3 linked regions of the Homo sapiens genome follow. The protein of the gene in region 1 interacts with the protein of each later gene in a pairwise test. Each region holds a gene or a part of one and is shown on either strand. Other genes may lie near its edges.

Region 1 (7,304 bases):
GTAAAAATTAACAGTTTTCCAAAGGTAAGATCTGTTCTGCTCTGATCTCCTTGCACACTAAGATGTCTTACTCAATTTTATATTCTCAAGTCTTAGTTATTGTAGATGCAGAGTAAGTGACTGCTTGTAAATAAATAATAAATATATAAACATATTATCTAAGAATAACTTTGAAAAACCTTTAAAACTGTAAAAAATGCTCTGGATCTTTAGTCTGTATAATTTCCCTCATTTATGAATACCTCAAAGCACTACTGAAACAATTAAATGACTCAATGTTATGAAAGCACGATGTGGTTCCATAACTTTTTGGATACTTGGCTTTTACCAAGTATGTTATCTGCTTCAAGGGAGTTTTTGAGGATGCAATATGGAAGAGTAGTGAAAAGTATGAAATACTACGTAGGTATAACTGAAACCTAAATCCTCACCACTGCAAGCATTAAGGAGAAACCCCTAAAATTATTCTGAGTGTAAACACAGCAAAAGGCGCATGGACCTTAACCAACATGTATGACACCAAATGAAATTAAGTTACCTGATGTAGGGTCCAGTGAACTGACTCTGTTTTTAGATAAACAGGAGCTACTATTAGGGTTGCCTGATTCTGTGTTATCTTTGTTTTTGAGTAAAGCTAAGGCATCTTAGGGTTGCCTGATTCTGTGTTGTGTTATCTTTGTTTTTGAGCAAAGCTAAGGCATCTTTTTCACTTTTGAGGTCCACTTTCTTTTAAGAATTCAAGCCTAAAACTCTAAAGAAGTTTATCTTTATTTTATTCAACTTTCAATCTGTTCAGTTACATAGTTGTTATGACCTGGTAAGCCTATCTGTGTTTGCTCAGTTGATTTGCTTCATTTTGAACTACATAACAGGCTACTTCCAATGAAAACATATACTACAATGTAAAATCTGTCATGATTTGGAGAGACCTGTGCACTGGTTTTATTAAGCACTCTTGTGCTCCCTCTGCTGCCATGAAGAAAATGTTCATGTTCAAGACCCCAGTACATTCCTCAGCAGAGCATTCTTTTTTGGCAATAATGATGCAGATGTGTGCACTTACAGTGCAGTAGTATTTATCCAAAGCATATAACATAATAATTTTTCATTGAAAAGCACAAATTAATAAGGGCTGTACTTACTAAAAAGGAGCAAAAAAGAAATAAATAGAGGAATTAACTTCTGCACTTGTGCCCAAATTTATTTAGGTTGATCCCTGTGGTATAGACCAGTGTTCTTCACATGATAATGTGTTTAGAAATCACCCAGGGGCCTGGTTCAAAGGCAGATTCTGATTTGGTATGTCTGGGGTAGAACCCTTGACTCTGAATGTCTAAAAAGCTCCCAAGTGCTGCTGTGGCGACTTTGAAAACTACACTTTAAGTAAGGGTGTAATATGTAATTATATAATATATACTTGCTGGCCCATTTAACACCTTCAAGAGTAGATACCACCAAAACAGTAAAATAGATATGTGATTACAATTATTTTTCATGGTATTTAAGCAATCTATGACACAGGATACGAGTCAAGCTCATCAGGCCTTATTTATCGATTTCCTGTAATTTCAAAGGTTGACTTATGCTTTTACAAACATAACACCAGCCTTATGAGTAGGACTATAGTACTATATATTTGTCTACTAGCTTCTTGGAAGCTCTGCCCTTTTTCATTGAGTTTTTATTTGCACGAGAAAGTCTTGTTTCTAAAGAATCAGTGCCTGTTATTTGTGATTGTACACTTAATATTTTGCCATCTGAAAACAAAATATTTCAGTACTAAAGGTAATGAGACAGTTTCATGAGTATGGTGTTTATGTTGGATCTTGCAGGAAGAAATAGTTACAGATTTTGGTGGCAGTTTATGGCTTTAAACTTAATGGCTAAGAAAGTAAATGACACATTTCTTATTAATTGTTTTTACCATTTGGGTAATATACATATTTAGCTTCCTTGAGAGAACATTTAAATTAATTGACTAACTGTAATCTGAATTATGTGTTTTAATTTAAGGTTGTTAAAATCACGTAAATTAACTGCTTGTGCCAACGTAAAATTACAATATTAGCTTTTTTTTAACTGAAAATTATCTAAATGTAAGATGTCTAAAAATAGAGTGGAGGTGGATTGGACAGTTTGCAGATTATGAGTTGGAATAAAAACATCGCAGTTAAGCCAAAAACATGGCAACCAATATTTTCTGTTATAAAAATATTTGAGATGAATTTAGTTTTTATGAAAGCTGTCTGAAACTGAAATGAATAGCAGAAGCTTTCTGTTTATTCACAGTCCAGTAATAATAATACCTGCAGCACAAAGCATACGTCTTTTCTATATAAAGCCAACAAGCTTCTGCTCCTTTCTGAAGTCGTCTTTGCCAAGCAGGGTGTTGGGGGCGGGGGTGAGGATAGGGGTGAGGGGACATTTTACCCGGTTATGCTCTTACGTACTAACCTTCACCTTGACAAAGCTTGTCAACGAAAACAAAACCAGTCAGAGCCTTTTCAGGAAACTGATGTTAACTGTCCACTAGAGGCTGTAATGAGACCAACAATGTCACTTTAGACCAACCCGAGGTTTAAACCGTAACAATAATCGATTTTTAAATGGAAAAAAAAAAGTTGTAGAAATGAGTAAGAGTGAACACTAGTAGTTATACTTAAATAGCCACATATATGTGCATGGTATTTCAAAAATGTGAGAAAAAAATATTTCCGGGGCTCTGCACCTTCCTCGCTCGTATGTTTATTTTTATTTATGAAGCACGTAGGCTCTTGCAGGCCAGAGTTGTGTAAAAACTGACACTTTTTTTTTGGTCATCCTGTGCCCTGCCTCAGTTGGTGACTAACCGTTAGGTCATAAGTAAACTCAGCCAAAAGATCTCTCAAATACAGCTTACAGTCAAGATTGGTGGCTTTCAGAAAGAAACTTACGCGAAAGGATCATGTTTCCAGACACTTAGTTCTAAGCACCTGAAGAAGGTCAAATGTCGCCCGACACCTACCGGCCTTCCAGAATCATCTGCAACAAGAACGCCGCACTGAGCGCCCTTAGTCTGGAGGCGCCTCCTAGTCCTCCAGGTGCCACACCTGTTGGCAAGGTGCACCCATCCGAAGAAGATTCCTTCGCGTGGAGGTCACACCTGGCGGCGAGACAGGCGGAGGGGCGGGGTGGTGGGAGTCGGAGACCGCACTGAAACCCTGAGTCCAGATTTAAGTTCCTCGTCGATTCTCGAGAACTGCCATTTGATGCTCCGGTTGCTTTCTCTGTCTCCTACACTGGTTACCTCATTTCCGATTAAATTAATGATCCGAAATTAGCTGCGAGAGGAGTGCGCGGGTCTCCTTTCCAGGCTAGAGCGGAGTAGTTCCATATCAAAGCCGATTTCCGGACCTGCGTGCGAAGAGAGAAAGAGGGCAGGGTCGGGCGGTCGCCAGCGTTCGCCGGCAGGAAAGGTGAGGGTACCTGTGCAGTCGGGGGACCCCTTGAAACTTTCCGGAGTTGCACGCAGAGGCAATCCCCGCGGCCCCCAGGCCTGGGTTCCGGAACGCCGAAGCGACGCCGGTTTGTGGCTTAACGTGCAGCTGATGATCAGAGTGAGCCCTCTCAGATGCTGCTCCGAGCGCCTGGGACCAAGGACACGTCGGGATTAGAATGGGCCGACCTCCCCTCCCCGCTGGGGTGTTGCATCGGCTCCCAGCTGAAGCCTGACAGCCCTTGGGGGAGTCCCCCAGGTTGCCTGAGTAGCGCCCCGTTGTCGTTCAGTCCCCTCCAACTAGGTGCAGGGACCCAGGGAGGCGCGCGAGGACCGACCCGTCACCGCTCAAATTACCTCATCGCCCAGCTCCCCGCCCCCTTCCCAAACCTGGAAGGAACCTTGCCCTCCGGTCCGCGTCTCCCCTCCCCCGCACCCCATCCCGAGCCACTCTTTGGGAAAGGTGCCCGCCTCCCCGGGCGGCGCGCAGCGAAGGGTTAAGGGCGCGGGCCGGCCGCCGCGCGGTGCGCTCGCCGTGCTCTGTGCGGCTCGCCGGGCCGCCCGCCAGAGGGTGCCCCCCACCCCCATGAAGTCGGATCCTTGAGCTGCGGCGGCGGCAGCCAACTGCTCCATATTTGGCTTCTATTACACATTTACATACTGGAGCGAGCGAGCGAGCGAGCGCGAGAGAGCGCGAGGGAGGGAGGGAGGGCGGGCGGGCGGAGGGAGGAGGGAGGGGAGGGGAGCGGGAGGAGGGGGAGGAGGAGGAGGAGGAGGAGGAGGAGAGAGCAGAGTATACCGCAGACATCATTTCTACTACAGTGGCGGAGCCGTACAGGACCTGTTTCACTGCAGGGGGATCCAAAACAAGCCCCGTGGAGCAGCAGCCAGAGCAACAGCAGCCGCAAGACATTGTTTCTCTCCCTCTGCCCCCCCTTCCCCACGCAACCCCAGATCCATTTACACTTTACAGTAAGTGACTATTTTTTTTTCCTCCTCCGATTCTTTCCCCCCTCCCCCATTCCCTTCTCCCCTTATTTAGATTAAAATCCCTCCTCCCCCGATCTCCCGAGAGGGGCAAAAGCAACAACCAGCAAACAAACCCAAAACCCCAATCGGCTGCACGGAAAACAGCTGGAAGAGGAGCGAAGGAAATCGACGCGTCGTGTTCTGTGTGTGTGCGTGTGTGTGTGTGTGTGTGTGTATGTGTGTACATACAACCGTCCCCGGCTCCAGGCTCCCGGGCCGACACCCCCACTCTGGGCGCAGGGGCGGCCGGCGGGGGGGCTGTCAGGGGCTGGGTGGGCGCCCGCCGGGCTAGGGGGCGCGCCCGGGCGGGGGGCGCGGGCGGGGAGAGCGGCGGCGGCGCCCCGCTCCCCCGGCTGCTGGTCCGGTCGCAAGTGCGGAGAGCCATGTCCTCCTCCCTCCGGGTGGCGCAGGGGGGAGGCGGCGGCTGGGGTTGGGGGGTGGTCCCTTTCCCGGCCGCCCTCTTCCCATTCCTCCTCCCCGGAGAGGGCGGTGAGAGAGAGGGGGTCTCACGGAGGGCTGGACTTCTCCGCGGGTGGTCGCCCGGCCTCGGCGCCCTGGGGCGGGGGTCTCCCCTCGGAGGGCCGGCCTCGCCGGGTGTGCGGCTGCGGGCGGGGAAGGGACTGCTCCTGCAGCCGGGACGGGACTTTGCGCGCGGCCGGGTGCCGGGCGGGGGGCGCAGAGGGGTGGCCTCGGGGACCGCGCGGGGGTAGCGGGTGTGCGGGTGCCTGGAGCGCGGCTGGAGTGGCGGTGACGGCCCTGGCCGCCGCCGCCACCGCCGCCCTGTTGGTGCGGCCGCTTCCTGATCATGTGCAGCGGCAGCCGCCGCCCGGAGCCGGGAGCCCGCGAGCGCCCCAGTCCGGGCCGGCGCCCCCGCCAGCACCCGCGGCAGGAGACGAGGAGCCGCGGCAGGCGCTGCCCTGAGCCGGGAGTGAACGGCTGCGCGGCTGCTGGGAGGGTGAATGAAGCCAGGAGGAGGGGAAGGAGGAGGAGGCGGCGGCCGCCGCGGAGGAGGCGCTGCGGGGATTGGGATGCGCCCTGGAGCCCCACTGCTCGTTCACTCTGGGCCGGGCCGGAGACTCTGCCACTCCCGGGGGCGCCGCCGCCTCCTCCTACGTGGTTCCAGTGCTGCGCGCAGGCCGGTCCCGCAGGGGGCAGGGAAGGGGGCCGGACGGGCGGAGCGAGAGGTGAGGCGGTGTCGGAGCGCGGCGTGAGTGTGAGTGAGTGTGTGAGTGACTGTGTGTGTGTATTTGTGCGCGCGCGCGCCGGGCGGGGGGCGAGGGCCGTCGCGACGCGGAGGGGGCCCTTCCTTGGCTACTTGGCTGACTCTGCAGCGCCCCGACCCCTCTTCAGCCCCCCGCCTTCAGGCTGCCTTCTTAAACTCCGTGGCTTGTGCTTTCATTTTGTTTCAGACCACGTAGGGGGCTGACTGAAAGGGATGAAACAATTCAGGTTTTCTAGGGAGATTGAGCAAGAACCTTAGTGGGGGTGGAAGTAGGGTGGTGATCGAGACTCTGCCAGAAAACAAAACAAAACAAAAAAAAATCCGTTTCTAAGGACGGCGGGGATTCGGTTCGAGCCCGTGGCTGCTCTGTTTTGTTTTGCTTTCTTGGTATATAATCCTACAGATAAAAGGGTAATATAAATATTTGAGAAGAGGGAAATTGCTGAAGAGTAGTAAGGGCAAAAAAAAAAAAAAAAAAAAAAAAAAAACAGTCGGAAGAAGCTGGTTATATAATGCGCGATGTGGCTAACAAGAAAGGCAAGCTATTTTTATTTTGTTTACCGTATGCTGTGCAGTAGGGACTCCTCCAAACTGGTTCTGTCCCCGAAGAGATTCTTAGCTTCCCTGCGAGATCCACAGGATACAATTAGCAAAATTAGAAGACCCTATTACACCCACAGAATAAAAACTAATGCCTTACAGTGGCTTTCTCCCTGCACATCCTGTCGTGCATGCACGGGAATGTGTGTATGCAAATAAGTTCTCCTTTGGCAATCTAGTAGTCACATCTCAATGACATTTGTGTTTTATAATGCAGGCTGTTTTTAATATTTAAACATCATTGTTATATATTGCACACAGCAGTGGGTAGTTACTTGGTTATTTTTAGGCACAGCTAGTTACTTTTTCAACAGTGTTAGCTGAGACATTTCTGTTTGGGTTTTTTAGGAGGCTGCAGTTCCTAGAAGCCCCCCTTAAGCCCACCCTTCGGTTTATTTGATGGGTAAAGGTAGTTTGATACTTGAGCTTTTTTTGGAGTGAAGCTTATGTCTGAGGAAACCACCAGAGAGAAGAGAAAATCCTGCACAGGAACTCTTGGAAAGGGATTGCACCATAACGGCTAGCGCTGTGGCATTTAATCTCCTCTGATTGCCCTCTCACTGTGCATGCATCAGTCAATATTTTAGCAGCTCCGCAAATAAATGGACTTGAATGCCATCTTCTACATAAAGCAGAGGTTGAAGGGCTCCCCTGAACCTCCTGGCTGCCTGTCAGTGGTGTAGGTTTTCGGTGCACTTACTCCAGTCCTGATCACTCATGTAATTAGATCAGGCTGCCATGGCAACAGACAGTGTTCCTCGTCCATTCAGGTGGGTTTGTCTTGTGCCTGAACTACTCCAAGTGTTTTATGCACAGCATTTATGCTGCCCAAGCCAGACGAGAGACTCCACTATTTCAATTGCATCTTCTTTCAGTCATTTGGATGGGAGACACTGAATGAGGCTTCTAGCTACTCAACTTTTATAAAGGAGACCAACAAGCTGTTCTTCCTAGGTGCAGTATGTAAATGCATCTCCC
Region 2 (6,880 bases), on another chromosome or scaffold:
AATTATTGTAACTGGTTCAATAGATTATTCTTAGGCTAACATATATGTGTAAATTCATTAAATTAATAATTGTTTGCAAGTTAATATCCAAAGTTATCTCATTGGGCTCCCTAGGTGATGATGTGCTAATTGCCCCTGGAGCTGGCCACTTGTATTTTTTTAAATAGAGGTAACTGGCAAATCTGGACACAGTTAAGCAATTATGCTAAGTAAGAGAGAGAATGCTGTCTGAAATTCTAGCCAACAATTATCCATTAATCATGTCCAATATTTTTTTTCTATGGATGGTAAAAAATAAACCGCCTAAACTCTCCCAATTTAAAAATATGAGTGGCATTTTGTTACATTCCGGCAAGGGGAATAATATCAGAAACTTCTTGGCTTCTCACAAAATAGTGTTTTTAATAAATCGATGGCGCCCTGGATCATGGTCTTTCAAAGGTCATGCTGGTCCAGGAAGATACTGGGAAGCTGAATCACAGGTCGGATGATATAACTGGGTAATAGGGATTCAGAGGAGCACCGGAAAATGGCACTTGTGCTTTGACTTTCTAAAGTGTTTGTAAAACGGCCTGTTTGACCCAGACAGAGCTTTACTATCACAGGAAAGTGCTTTTGGAGTCCCTGATGAGTGCAGCAACCTCACCCCAAACTTTTGAGCACATCTTGGCGCCCAGAGCAGCCATTCGCGACCTAAATTACTAAGTCAAGATTCAAGCTCTACAGCAGCAAAGGTCCTGTGAGGTACGCTTGGCTGGAAGAAAGCTAGGTATCTGGCTCTGCCCAGAAGGCGCCCGCTCCGCAAACTGCTGGGAAGTTCTGGTTTGTTCCAAGAGTAGCACCAAGGAGACAAAGGAACATGCAAAATAGGATAGCTTATGCTGGCTGCAAGAAGCTGCAGTCGGGTTTTTGCCCCTGGGCCCTCTGATAATCACCGCAGGGACTTGGGGCAGGAGCAGGCTATTGGAATGATGGCAGACGGTTTAAAATTCCTTACTTGCTGATCCCTGAGCAGTGGTCTTGTAGAGTCACCACAGCACTGGAGATTGGCAGCTAGCTCCACCACTAATGTGCTCTCTTAAATCTCGATTACTTGAGGCGGATAATGGAAGAATGAAGTTACCTACCTGATTTGTTATTGTTGCTGCTGTGAGGTTTAAGAGTTAACATGTAGCAACATGAGGATTAAGAGTTAACATGTAGCAAGATAGCAAGCTTAAAAAAAGAAAGAGAAAGACAGAAAGAATGAAAGAAAAGAAAGAAAGAAGGAAGAAAGAGAAAGAAGAGAAAGAAAGAAAGAAAGAAAGAAAGAAAGAAAGAAAGAAAGAAAGAAAGAAAGAAAGAAAGAAAGAGGTAGTGGTTATTGTTGGAGGCCTCACACCTGTGAGTGGTATCGCCCCAGAACTCTGTCAAAGTCTCCTGAATCTTGAGAAGCCAAGCCCTTGTTCTCTTCTATTGGGCTGCTTCCTCGGGTACGACTTTGTAGGAGCCACCAGGAATTAAGTGCACCTGCTAAGGTCATGAGACAAGATGAGCCTCTTTGGAATGCCAAAATTTGCCCCCAGCAGACCGCACTGCTGCGTCTACCCAGGCAGTATACATCTAGCCCTTCACATGTAATCATGTTGAATTGAGTTTTTGGCAACACTTGTCCCTGGCTAACTACCTGATTCTGCGGAGCGTCAGAGCCTGGTCTCTCAAAAGCCCTCTCCCCAAAGGCCAGAAGTGAAGTTTCCCCCGGCCGTCATGGCCCTGAAACGGAGCACTGCAGAGCTCACAGAGGGGAGTGGAGATGGGAAGAAAGACACTGTTTCCTGAGTTGCCTGGATAGGATTATTTATGACGTAGCCACAAGCCTCTTCTGCTACAGCAGGCGGAGACCTTGCCACCTCAGGATTATGCTGCCACTTGCACTTAGCCTTCTTCCCGCATATACACACCCAGCGACATAAAAAGGGCACTCCTGCCCTGAGTTTGGAAATGATGTTTTGTGATGAGAGTCTAGTCCTGGTGGCTCACTCCTCACTGTCTATTGCTCACCGGCACGGAAAACTCTCTTTCATTCATAAATAATTGCCTTGCGCATTACTGTAGAAGAAAACTTAGTTAACAAATTCCTTTGTTTTGCTTGTGAAGTTACCAGATTTGGTTAGTAATTGCCTGCTTGATCAAAAGCCATTTCCTTCGTGGTTAACCAAACATCAACTTGTCTCTGTTGGGCCCGTTTTAAATATCACCAAAAGTGAACAGCCCCAATTACGACAGGAAACACATTTCCCGACATTAAACAAGGAACAGAAACAGATTTGTCGTGTTTCAAAATGCACATAGTTCTATGGATGGGCTCACATGCTGTTCTTATTTGCAACCTTCTCTCCCTAAACAAACACACAGGAGCGCGAAGACACAAACACATTCTTCTTTCAGTGGGTGTAGAAGGATTCTTGGAAAATCCTGTCTCTGAGTTATCTTCAAAAATGGCTGAAACTTATTACTGTGACACTTTTTAACTTGAAAATCAAGATAAAGTAAAGGGGAAAGTCTAAAATAAAATAAAATACAATCACTATTTTACTTTTCTTGAAAGAAGGGAAAATATTTGCCAGGAAAAATACTTTAGAGAGACTGTAGTCCTCTTCAGACATTTAAAACTTTCACATGAGATAGTAAAATAAATTTAAAAATTAAAAAATAATCCCTTGAGTTTTTGTGTGGTTGACTGTGAGCTGCAAATCTCAGGAACACCGGAATGCATTTATAAACCCATCAGAAATATCACCGTCACTATTTGGCATTCAGTATTGATAAGAAATGCGTGGTCCTCCTTGGCCTCTGGTTTTTCAGGCAGGGTTATAACAGGCATTATCTGCTTCAGGGGTTTTATTTGGGAAATCCCCTGGGTCCTTCCTAGTTATCCATGGCACTGCGGTGTGGTAGCCCAATGCGGGGTAGCTGGGGTTTCCTGCATTACTTGAAAGGTATGGTGCTCTCTGCAATGGAGAAAATAAATTTAAAAGCTATAGAATTCGTCCAATTAAACCGCACTAATCCAGAATCTGTCTTCTCTTCTATGAGAGCCTCTTCACTAGAGGATAAAATGAGCATTGATTTTTCAAGTACCTATGGATCACTTATTGCTAGTAAATTCTTCTGACTTAGGGCCTTAAGCCCTTTTCGATTCTCTCTGAGCTGCCCTGGAGAAATAAACCAACAAGTAAAAATCAAACATGTTCTATTTTGCAGCAGAAAAATGTGTCAGCCAAGACATTTCTGGGATTCGCTGTGCATTAAATTGTGTGTGTGTGTGTGTGTATATGTGTGTGTGTTGGATCTTTCCTTTAGGAGGTGTAAAGTTTTGTTTATGTGGCGCTTGCAGACTGAGAGGGGGATCCTGGCCACTGAGAGTCTCTACACTGCCTGGGAATCACTGCCTGAGGCTGAATGGGTCTCTTAGTGGATGACTCCAGAGCTGAACCCCTTGAGTGGAGCTTCTGAGCTGCTGTTGTTGATTGAGGATTGAAAAGTGTTTTCCAACTGCAAGTGCTCCTGCTGGGCATGGAAATGAGCTGACTAGACTTGTAAAGTCAATCCACTCCTGCTTCAAAGGCATTTTTTCCCAAGTGCATTAGCCTGTAGCTCAGAGCAGGATGCAGCCAGGTATGGTTGCAACCGGGAGGCTGAGGTAGGATGCAGGGTGCCTGCAGCCTTGAGGCTCTGAAAGCTGAAATCACAGACTGTCATTGTGACTTCATGGCCAACCTTGAGTAACAGCAGGTCTTCTGTGGGAGAAGTTGCTGGAGTCCAACCCCGGAAGTAGCAAGTGCCTCTCCCACAGCTGAGGGCCAGAACACCACGTTCTCTTGTGCTCTGGCTCTAGGCCACTCTTCTCTGGGCTCTTGAGAAGAGCTGCTGCAGGCATTTGCAGAGTGAATGAGCTCTGACTGAGACTTGACTTCAGAACCACTGGGCTGGCCTGGCCTCTTGACACAGCAACACACTGCTTCTTGCCTTCCAGGTAAATACCTCTGCCTTACTGACCATGTTATGGGTTTTAGTGGGACATCAGTACAGGGATTCTCCTCAGCCTCTTCCTCTCCTGTTAACTATCACTAACCAAGTCCCTAACATTAGGAAAGTCCAACTGATAACTGTCAGTTTCATCTTTCATTAACTGGGGGTTTTGTGACAGAGATCTTGCAATCACTACTTCTCGGGGGACTGGAAGTAGAATATTAGTGCTCTTTAAAATTAATGAAGGCTAGACTTGTCCAGTCTGTTAAGAGTATGCTGTAATACCCAAAGAAGCCAGCAATAGTCCCTCTCCTAGGCAGCAATGCAGCCAGAAGGCTCCCAGGCCCAGGATACTATGCATTAGTGCTCACAGATCTTGTTTAGGGAGCTAGGGAGCAAGGGGAAGGGACGGGAGTGCCTCCTGGAAGGTGAGGACTGAAGCCAACGTGGAAGTCACTGAGCTGAGTGGCAGGTGTCTAACACTGAAAAGTGGCCCTAGCCAAGGGCTCTAAGTAGTGGTACTTTCTACCGAGGCTCTTCCCCAAGGAGCTCTAGATCCACAGAGGCAGAAGGATTATTTGATCTTCTTTGCACTCATTTGATTTCAGGAGGAGGTCTGAAGTCCCAAAGCATGGGCATTGGGGTGAGAGAGGGAACATCAAAGTGTGCCAAAAAAGATTGTTTTATTTTACTTATTCCTGATTTTTCTTACCAGAGCTTGAGCTCATACACCGCATTGTAACACAAACACACAAGCACACATACCACACACACACACATGCCTTCAAACTAGAGAAGGGGACTACAGAAAGCACCTGGCCATAAAAGGCATGTCAAGGAGTTTGCTGTAGGGTGGTGATATGGTTGCTTTGTTTCAGTTCAGCAGACTTATCTCCATGAAGACCTTATTGTTTTCTGTGATTTCTCTTTTGTATTTTTTAAAATTTGTCTTTATTTCTTAATTATTAAAACCTTCCCTTTTGCCCCTCGGAGCATTGATCAGGGTTTACTAACTACAAATATTTACTTCATGAAGGAGCAGTTTTTTCTCTAGTAATATTAATGTGGGGACCCTGGGAAGGAAGACAGTGTATGAAAGAAGGCATAGATTGGCTTCAAGCACAGGCAGTATAGGTGTTTGCCTATATTTGGTGTTTTGATAGACTTAGGGAAAATCCCTCAGCCTACTACCAAATATTTTTGAGTGTCAGTACATCTGTGGTTGTTAGGTATTGAAAAGCCCTGATTAAATACAGATAATTATGAGAATATGGAAAGAAGCCTTTAGTACCTTATTCGCATGTCCTAGGAATGATGAGGTAGGGTGCCAAGTTAAGAAGAGGAAAATATATTGTAAATATCCAGGAGTAAGTAAATAGTGAAAAGATTAGCACGAGATTTGGTGGGCCCAATGGAGTTCAGGATGATTTCTTTCTTAACAGAAGGATCTGCTTCTGTTGGGCTCATGGCTGCCCAAATTAGGCAGAGCCAGATGATGACTCACTGATCTGAGAACTGAGTGGAGTCATTTGGTGAGAAAGCGTGTGTAGGGGAAGAGGGTGTAAAGCAAGCATTTTTCTAGTTTTAGGAAGATAAAATAATTCCTCATAAACAGTATTTTTTTTCAATAATTCATTGATGCAATTAACTTGGCATATCTCCGTTCAAGTGATCTGAGCCAGTGATATTTTGCTATATGTCTGAATTATTTATTTTAAAATATCAAACTGGCACCTGCAGTCATTTTTCAAATCCTAGCCCACTTTCTTTGAGGCTGATGCATATAGCATATTTGGAGGTAACTCTGACTCTCATCCTCATTTTTAAAAAGGCAGCATGATGCCAGGTGCGGTGGCTCAAGCCTGTAATCCCAGCACTTTGGGAGGCTGAGGCAGGCAGATCACCTGAGGTCAGGAGTTCAAGACCAGCCTGGCCAACATGGTGAAACCCCGTCTCTACTAAAAATACAAAAATTAGTTGGGCGTGGTTGAACACGCCTGTAATCCCAGCTACTCAGGAGGCTGAGGCAGGAGAATCACCTGAAGCTGGGGGGCAGAGGTTGCAGTGAGCTGAGATTGTGCCATTGCACTCCAGCCTGGGCAACAGAGGGAGATTCTGTCTCAAAAAAAAAAAAAAAAAAAAGCATGAAAAAAAACAAAGAAAAGGAAAGAGGAAAGATGGGGGTGGAGTAGGTAAAAGAAATGTATAAGGCATAATACCCAAGTTAAAATGACCTAACCTAAAAATTCACATAGCACAAACTCTACCCATGAAAAAATATTATGTCCAGCAGTCCTGATTGAGCCTTCAGTTAATATATGACTGTGCAAGTGCCAATGGAGCACCAGAGAGGTAACATAAAAAGGAATAGGTTTGACACTAGTTTGGTGTTGTTTTTGTGTGTGTGTGTGTGTGTGTGTGTGTGTGTGTGTGTTTTCTTTAATTTTGTTCATTAGGTTTTGTAGAGACAGGATCTTGCTATGTTGCCCAGGATGATCTCGAACTCCTGGACTCAAGCTATCCTTTTCCCTCAGCCTCCCAAAGCACTGAGATTACAAGTGTGAGCCCATATACCTGGCCTTAAGCTCAATGTTTTAATGGAGAGTGTTTGAGGACTAAAAGAGACAGGATGCATTTATAATTATTTATTATTTTCACTGCTCCAGGAAGTCAAAGACAGCTGAAAGGTGACCATACAATGCCTCTTCTGGCAATTACTAGAATCACCATAGGGTAGAATTACATTTGGACTTTCAAAAAGGTTTTTTCTTTTTCGTTTATTCATTTATCCTGCTCAAAATTAGCCACGTACAAAATTGTCCCCATAATTCTGGTGGCAAATTTCCTAGGAAATTTTTAAAAATTCTAT
Region 3 (7,029 bases), on another chromosome or scaffold:
AGACAATCACAAAGTAAAATATGCACAGACACACACACACACACACACACACACACACACACACAGAGAGAGAGAGAGAGAGAGAGAGAGAGAGGGAGAGAACCAGACAGATGCAGTACTGCCTTTTATGACCTAGCCTTGGCAGTCACGCAGCATCACTTCTGCCTCACAGCATTTGTCAGGGCAGTCCTAGGCAGTTCAAGCAGTGAACTCCACCTTTTGGTAGCGAGTCACGAGGTTGTTGAAGAGCATATAGGACTAGAAATCTTGTCGTGGGAATTCTAGGAAAATACAGTCTGCCACATTAACGAAAGTCATAGTTTGAGCTTGGAAGAGTCTGGTCCCAAAGGTCAAAAGTTCGTTTCTTTACTTTGAAACTCATTTTCAAAGTCATCCCACACCGAGTTCTAGGCCCACTTCTGCAGTATGAGCCGAAGTAAGAAGAGGGATGTCAGCCTTCCACAGCTCCCACGTGAGGTACTGCCACCCGTCTTACACCCAGGCTACGGTCACACTCCTGCATTAAGACACTGCTTTCTATCTAAGTTCCGGAAGCCATCAATGCTGACCTTAATATGATTCCACACCATGACCCAACTTCCCATTTAACTCTTCCTTGATACCCTTTGTGCTTGCGGGCAGGCTTTGCGCTGAGTATTCCACGAGCATTGCATGAACACTCCCAGCCACGGGTTAGCTTCTTGTTTCCCTTGACTGACTGAACCCAACCACACAAGTATCCCGGGTTGTGTTCCAAACAGGCTGTGTTAGACTTCTGGCCCAGCTCTGTCGTGGTGCCCAACCTGAAGCTCTGCTCCAAGCCGCAAGGAGGACCGTCCTCCAGGTTGCTTCCTTTTGACCCACGCCGCCCCTGTCGCAGCCTCTTGTTGTTGTTCTGTTGTTGCTGTGCCTCCTTCCTGCTCTCGGTTGCTGACCTCCAGGTGTCCAGACCAAATCAAAAGATAGAACTGAATTTTTCAGGTAATCAAAATGTGTCCCTGTAAACATGAAAATGTTTCCTAACCAGTGTGGATGAAAACTCATTCTAAAATGTTTTACACAGTATCCTTCATCTGAAAGCTATTATCCAGAATACACCTGATCAACTTTTCATGGTGATGAACTGTCAGCATTTACTGTTCTTTTGGCTGTTACCACAATAAGAAAAGAGAGATGAACTGTTAACATTTTTGCCTCCAGAAACTTAAATTCTAGAAAAGATTAATATTCTCATGTTTTATCCCTTTGTGTACCTCTGATAATAAACTAATTTTATGATTCAAATGAGTAGAAAATTTACACTGTACAATTCAGGTACAAAAATATGTCATGTTCTTTATTTTCTGTAACTAAGCCATACTTCCTTATGAGCCCCAGTCCCACAAATTAGGGATGAGGATGGCAGTTGGACAAGAAGAAATGGATAAAAGCTTGTCTCAGTCTCTTCTAACTCAAAACAGTCTTATGCTAGGTTGTCTCTTAGACTTGCAGACTTTTTCCTCATCCCTATCTTCTGTCTCAGTGGAGATGGCATCCTGGGCATGAGAGAAAACATATGTGTACTCTTGGTGGAGTGAAAAAGAGGCCTCTGGTCTGTGTTCTGCCCTCTGGCCCCTCTCTAGAGCTGGTTCTCCTGACGAGTGACTAGTCTTAAATCAAATTCCCAGGACCCTGTCTGATGTGTACTGAATGTGGCTGCTAAAACTCCTGGCCTCTTCTCAGTCTGGTCAAATAAATCCTGGTGATTGTCCCCTGCTGACTGTTGATGCAAATGCTCTGAGATGCATCCTCCATCTGATCCCTGGCTAGATTCTCTGTTGCAAAGCCTGTGCTATGGGAGCACCTGGATCTGTAACCTTAAGGACTCCAGGGCAGGTGCAGCTCCCTCCACAGGTCCCACTGGTTGCAAGGGTAAGGGAAGCACAATCTCTGGCCTAGAGAGGGTATTTAGCCCTTTCTAACTTACACTTGGGCAATACCATGTTACTTTAGCTCCATGATGAATGGGGCGGCGGGGGAGGCGCTTTTTAAGGGGCTTGCAATTTTCCTGGACCACGCCAAGGCCTCTTGCACTGAGACTTTCCCAAACCTCAGAGATGTTTCTCACCCCCTGAATATCCCTTGGCCCATAGATTTGACCCTAAGGGGCACAAGGAGACAAGAGCTCTCTCTCCCCGCCCCACCCCCCGTGTGTGTGTGTGTGTGTGCACATGCACGTCTGTCACACTCTGACATCCCTGGGTTCCTTCCTCCTTACTTCATATATGCCCACCTCTCTTAACCATGGTTGTTACTAAAATTCAATGGTCTTGAGTCCAAAGCCTTTCTTGCCTCCTGGTGTACATGTAAGAAGGAGCATTTGATATTTAATAAAAACCCTTTCTTTGTTCCTCAACAAGTTAAGGTTTCAAAATGTCTGTTTTGCCAAGACTCAAAAAAATCAATATGAAATTTAAAATGGAACAATGATACCCTTGTTCTAGGCTTCCCCCCCGGCCCTTGTCTAGACGTAGCCCTGTCTCATAGAACTTTCTATTAGATGGTGGAAATGTTCACCTGTGCCATCCAATACTGTAGTCACTAGTCACACACAGCTGCTGACCGCCTATTGGAAATACAAATAGTGTGGCTGACGACCTAAATTTTAGTTTTACTTTCATTTAAATGAAATCACAACATATAGTTAGTGGCTACTGTAATGCACAGTACAGAAGAATATTTCATAAACTTCAAGGCCCACAGGACAGAAGGAAAACAGTGGACAAGCTGACCTGCAAGGCTCTTCAAAAATACTGTCCCGATCACAATAATGTGTCACTTTGTTTAAAGAGCTAGTACTTTTCGATGTCAGGAATGGTATAGGATGATATGGCCTATTTCTGTTTCTTCTAAAATCTACAGATTTTATTCATAGGATACTGAGCTCATTTAAATTGTTTTTAAAAGAAATCAGGGTTGACAAAAGCAAGCATTTATAGAAAAATTGGTTTTGTGGTTCTTTTTAGGAAAAGGATCGTGAGCTTGAAATTAAAAACATCTATAGTCATCGAATACTTAAAAATTTACATGACACAGAGGACTATCCAAAAGGTATGTTTTAATTACTTTTGCTCAAAATCTATTTTTAAGTATCTAGTCAGATTTTCCTAATTTATATAGACAAAATAATGGATATTTTCAAAAATCACTTCATTAGGCATTAAAATACATTTTGTGATTCTAGAAGAATAACGAGACTGAGATGGTGACATGGCTAGCAAGGAATAGAAATGCTTTCCCGTTCTCCCATCCTCAGCACACCCCTTTATGTCCTTTCTTCAGGTGGAGCAAAAGGATAACTTCAGCTTGAAGCAAAATGTCTGCCAAAAAGTGAACTTTCTAAGTGTATCTGTTAGCCAGTGTATGGCTTTTCAAAATGAACTTTATTGGGGTATACTTGACCTCAATAAAATGCATCCATTTTAAGTGTGCACGCAGCTCAGTGGGTTTTGACAGATGTTTATACCGATGGAGCCACCACCCCAATCAAGATATTGAATATTTCCACCTCCCCAGGAAGTTTCCTCGTGTCCCCTGCAGTCAGTAGTCCCCTACCTCACCCGAGGCAACCACTGACTTTCCTTTGGTCACAATAGCCTAGGTTGTCTGTTCTAGAATTTCATGTAAGTGGAATCCCACAGCTGCACCCTTTTGTATCTGGCTGCTTTTGTTCAGCATAGTGTTTTTGAGATTCATCTATATTGATGCCACTATCATTAGTGTATACCTCTCATTGGTGAGGTCTTCTTTTCTTCAAGAGCACGTGCACTGCTTTCCCCCCAAAATCTCCCAGCAACAGATTCGACTCAGAAGTACCATAGGAATACTCACCTCTGTTTTATTAGAAGAAGTAGCTACATGTTTACTTCCAGATGCAACAACCTCAAATTTCCTTGCCTGCCTTTGTTTGCTTCTGGCTTATAATCTAGAATAATAGAGACAATGAATCAACCGAGGGGTTGTTTAAATGATATAATTTCCTTCACTTTTCAGGAAAGTGCAGTCTAGATTTAGTGGTCATGCGCTTCAGCATGGACAGTCTAACCACTGATAATCAAGAGCTCCGCCACAGGATAGCTCGGTGGCCTGGCCTCTCACAATTACACGTCTACCTTGCTGAATCCCATCCACAAAGGACAGCCTTGTCCTCCAACAGCAACAATGTCTTATCCTAACACCTACTTGTTTTATACTCAAACACTGTGAGGCCCAAAGTAAGACAAAGCAAGGGCCCTGGAGGGAAAAACAGGAAACTAACAAATGCTTATATATATATTGAATATTTAGAAAATACTTAGTATACTTTATTATTACATTGCATAAAAGTTATTTTATGTTTAAAATCAATATTGTATCCAAATGTAAAATATGTTTCTTACATATAATCTACCTGTTCCATAGTTTCTTCAACAAAATCAGTCCAAGCAGACAGAAAAATTTTGCCATTCACAAGTATGAGACACCAGGGAACCCAAAAATCAGATGTTCCACCTTTGACAACTAAGGTACAGCAAATTTGGAATCTTGCAGTGTCTGATTAAACATGTCTTAACAAAAATAGGCTACAGTCACTTGTTCTATGTGAAAAGTATTTGTAGTCATTAGAATAAAATGCAATTTTAAGTTATCTAGACCCCCCAAAATGTGTTTTTGCTGCTTTTCTAAATTACAGGGTAAAAAGGCAACAGGAAACATCGATCATAAAGAAAAATCAACTGAAATAAATCATGAAATTCCTCACTGTGTGAATAAACTACCAAAGCAAGAGGATTCTAAGAGAAAATATGAAGGTAATTTTAACTCTTTAAAGTCTATCTTATCTGATTTCTTTAAAATTGTGAATTACTATATGTGTATATAAAGCACACATAAAACAGCTGGGCATGGCAGCTCGCACCTGTAATCCCAGCACTTTGGGAGGCCAAGGCAGGCAGATCACCTGAGGTCAAGAGTTTGAGACCAGCCTGGCCAACATGGTGAAACCCTATCTCTACTAAAAAATACAAAACTTAACCGCACATGGCGGTATGTGCCTGTAATCCCAGCTACTCAGGAGGCTGAGGCAGGAAAATCGCTTGGACCCAGGAGGCAGAGGTTGCAGTGAGCCAAGATCGTGCCACTGCACTCCAACCTGGGTGACAGAGTGAGACTCTGTCTCAAAAAATTAAAAAAAAAACATAAAACCGTTTCCAGAATTATAATGAAAGGAACACCTATGTACCCAGTAGCCTGCTTAAGAAACAGTGGATGAGTACTCCTTGGAACACCCTTGGGCCCTTCACAATCATATCCCCTCGCCCTGCCCACCAGAAACCACCACCGTCTTGGGTTTTAGGCCAGTCATTCCCTTGCTTTCCCTCACAGCTCCCTGTCTTTATATGTAGCTACATTCGTCTGCTTGGGCTGCCATAAGAAAATACCACAGACTGCCGGTTTAAACAACACTTATTTATTTTCTCATGGTTCTGGAGGCTAGGAAGTCCGAGATCAAGGTTCTAGGCATTTGGCTTCAGTTAAGGCCCTCTTCCTGGCTTTAGATGTCCCGCTTCTCACTATGTCTTCATGTGGCGTTTCCTTAGTGCTCGCACGAGGAGAGTCGGGGAGAGAGCACCAGTGCTCCAGTGTTTCTTTTTATAAGGACACTAATTCCGTCATGAAGGCCCCAACCTTGTGATCTCATTTAACCTTAATTACTTCCTTAAAGACCCAGTCTCCAAATATAGCCATACTGGGGGTTACGGCTTCAACATATGAAATTTGGGAGGAAGGAATACAAACATTCATTTCATAATAGTATCCTTAAATAATATATTCAGCTTTGAAAAACTGAGTAGCAAATTATTCAAATCCAGCTGAGCAAAGGGCAATATTACCACTTTTGAATAAAGACTTCCAGAAAAAGGACCCCAGCTTCAGCTCCCTTGAATATACAAGGGCCCAATCAGTGGGTGAGGTCCTGAATCATCCTGGGAGATAGAAAAACCCTCAGATCCATGGCATCTGGCAGAGCTCTTCTGGGCAGGCCCAAGAGAGCTAGGGCCAAGAGAACGGGCTGCCCAGATTTTCCTATTCTAAGATCACCAAAGCTTACCTTCAGCTCTTGGGAGTAGGTGGAAACAAACTGCTTCTTTGGGTTCCAAGGAGAGTCCTCAGCTGGCCCAGACTGCAGGGTTTGATAGAGAGTACAACACTTCATCAGCCATGGGCAAGACAGGCCAAGGCCCTGGCTCACCTGGTGTTTGGGACCTGGAGGTCTAATGGAGCAGGGGTCCTAGTCTGTCTCCTCATCTCTGGTGTGCAGCTAACATCCTGGGATTGCCCTTCATCATTTCCTGCAGATTCCTGTCACTCCCCTTCTCTACTGGATCTTCTCTTTCCTAAGCCAAGTCCTCCTCTTTCTTGGTAAATTCCATCATGTTTTAAAGAGCACAACCTTCACTAGCTTCTTGTAAATGGGTGCAGGTAAGGTAAATTTGTATACCTCTCATCTGGAAGTGTCATTATTCTGCCCTTACACTTGATTAATACTTGCCTAGATAGGAAACTCTAGGTTGAGGGTCATTTTCCTTTGGAATTTTGAAGATGTGGCTCATTGTTTTCATGTTACATTACCACTCGTGGGAGATCTGGCTGCAGCCCCGCAAGGCTGGGTAAGAGCAACTTCTGAGGAAAGTACATGCATGATGAATGAGTCCCAGAGTTCATTCAGGGCTGCAAATCAGATGTGTTCCCTTAGGCAGCATGGAGAGCCCTTGTTGAACACATTGGGCCTTCAGTAGAGGCCCAAGGGCCTCACCTTAGTTGTAAGGCCAAATAATGTTTAAATAACACAGTAGTTTGACAGAACTCACCGGCAAAGCCACTCTCTCTGTTGCAGTTTGGTGGAAACTGATCGTCAGTTGCAGTTGCACTGTGGTCACTGGTGTGTTTAAATTTTCTGCTTATTTTTCAGTCCATTGTCCTAATTCATAGTGTCCTAGAAAGTGTATC

What was found.
Region 2: the proteins of ATXN1 (region 1) and TBX22 interact in binary tests that used the Homo sapiens proteins (3 or more experiments, as listed by UniProt).
Region 3: the proteins of ATXN1 (region 1) and LCA5L interact in binary tests that used the Homo sapiens proteins (3 or more experiments, as listed by UniProt).

The regions. Positions count from the first base shown.
Region 1 is NC_000006.12:16,758,441-16,765,744, reverse strand, and holds the start of ATXN1 (ataxin-1), read left to right. Parts: upstream 1-4,284; 5' UTR 4,285-4,447; intron 4,448-4,578; exon of another isoform or gene 4,579-4,607; intron 4,608-5,560; exon of another isoform or gene 5,561-5,688; intron 5,689-7,304. UniProt on the Homo sapiens protein: Chromatin-binding factor that repress Notch signaling in the absence of Notch intracellular domain by acting as a CBF1 corepressor. Binds to the HEY promoter and might assist, along with NCOR2, RBPJ-mediated repression. Binds RNA in vitro.
Region 2 is NC_000023.11:80,010,873-80,017,752, forward strand, and holds the start of TBX22 (T-box transcription factor TBX22), read left to right. Parts: upstream 1-3,880; 5' UTR 3,881-4,015; intron 4,016-6,880. UniProt on the Homo sapiens protein: Probable transcriptional regulator involved in developmental processes. This is major determinant crucial to palatogenesis.
Region 3 is NC_000021.9:39,407,779-39,414,807, reverse strand, and holds part of LCA5L (lebercilin-like protein), read left to right. Parts: intron 1-761; coding exon of another isoform or gene 762-1,004; exon of another isoform or gene 1,005-1,284; intron 1,285-3,005; coding exon 3,006-3,090; intron 3,091-3,870; exon of another isoform or gene 3,871-3,964; intron 3,965-4,440; coding exon 4,441-4,544; intron 4,545-4,711; coding exon 4,712-4,829; intron 4,830-6,130; exon of another isoform or gene 6,131-6,202; intron 6,203-6,890; exon of another isoform or gene 6,891-7,015; intron 7,016-7,029.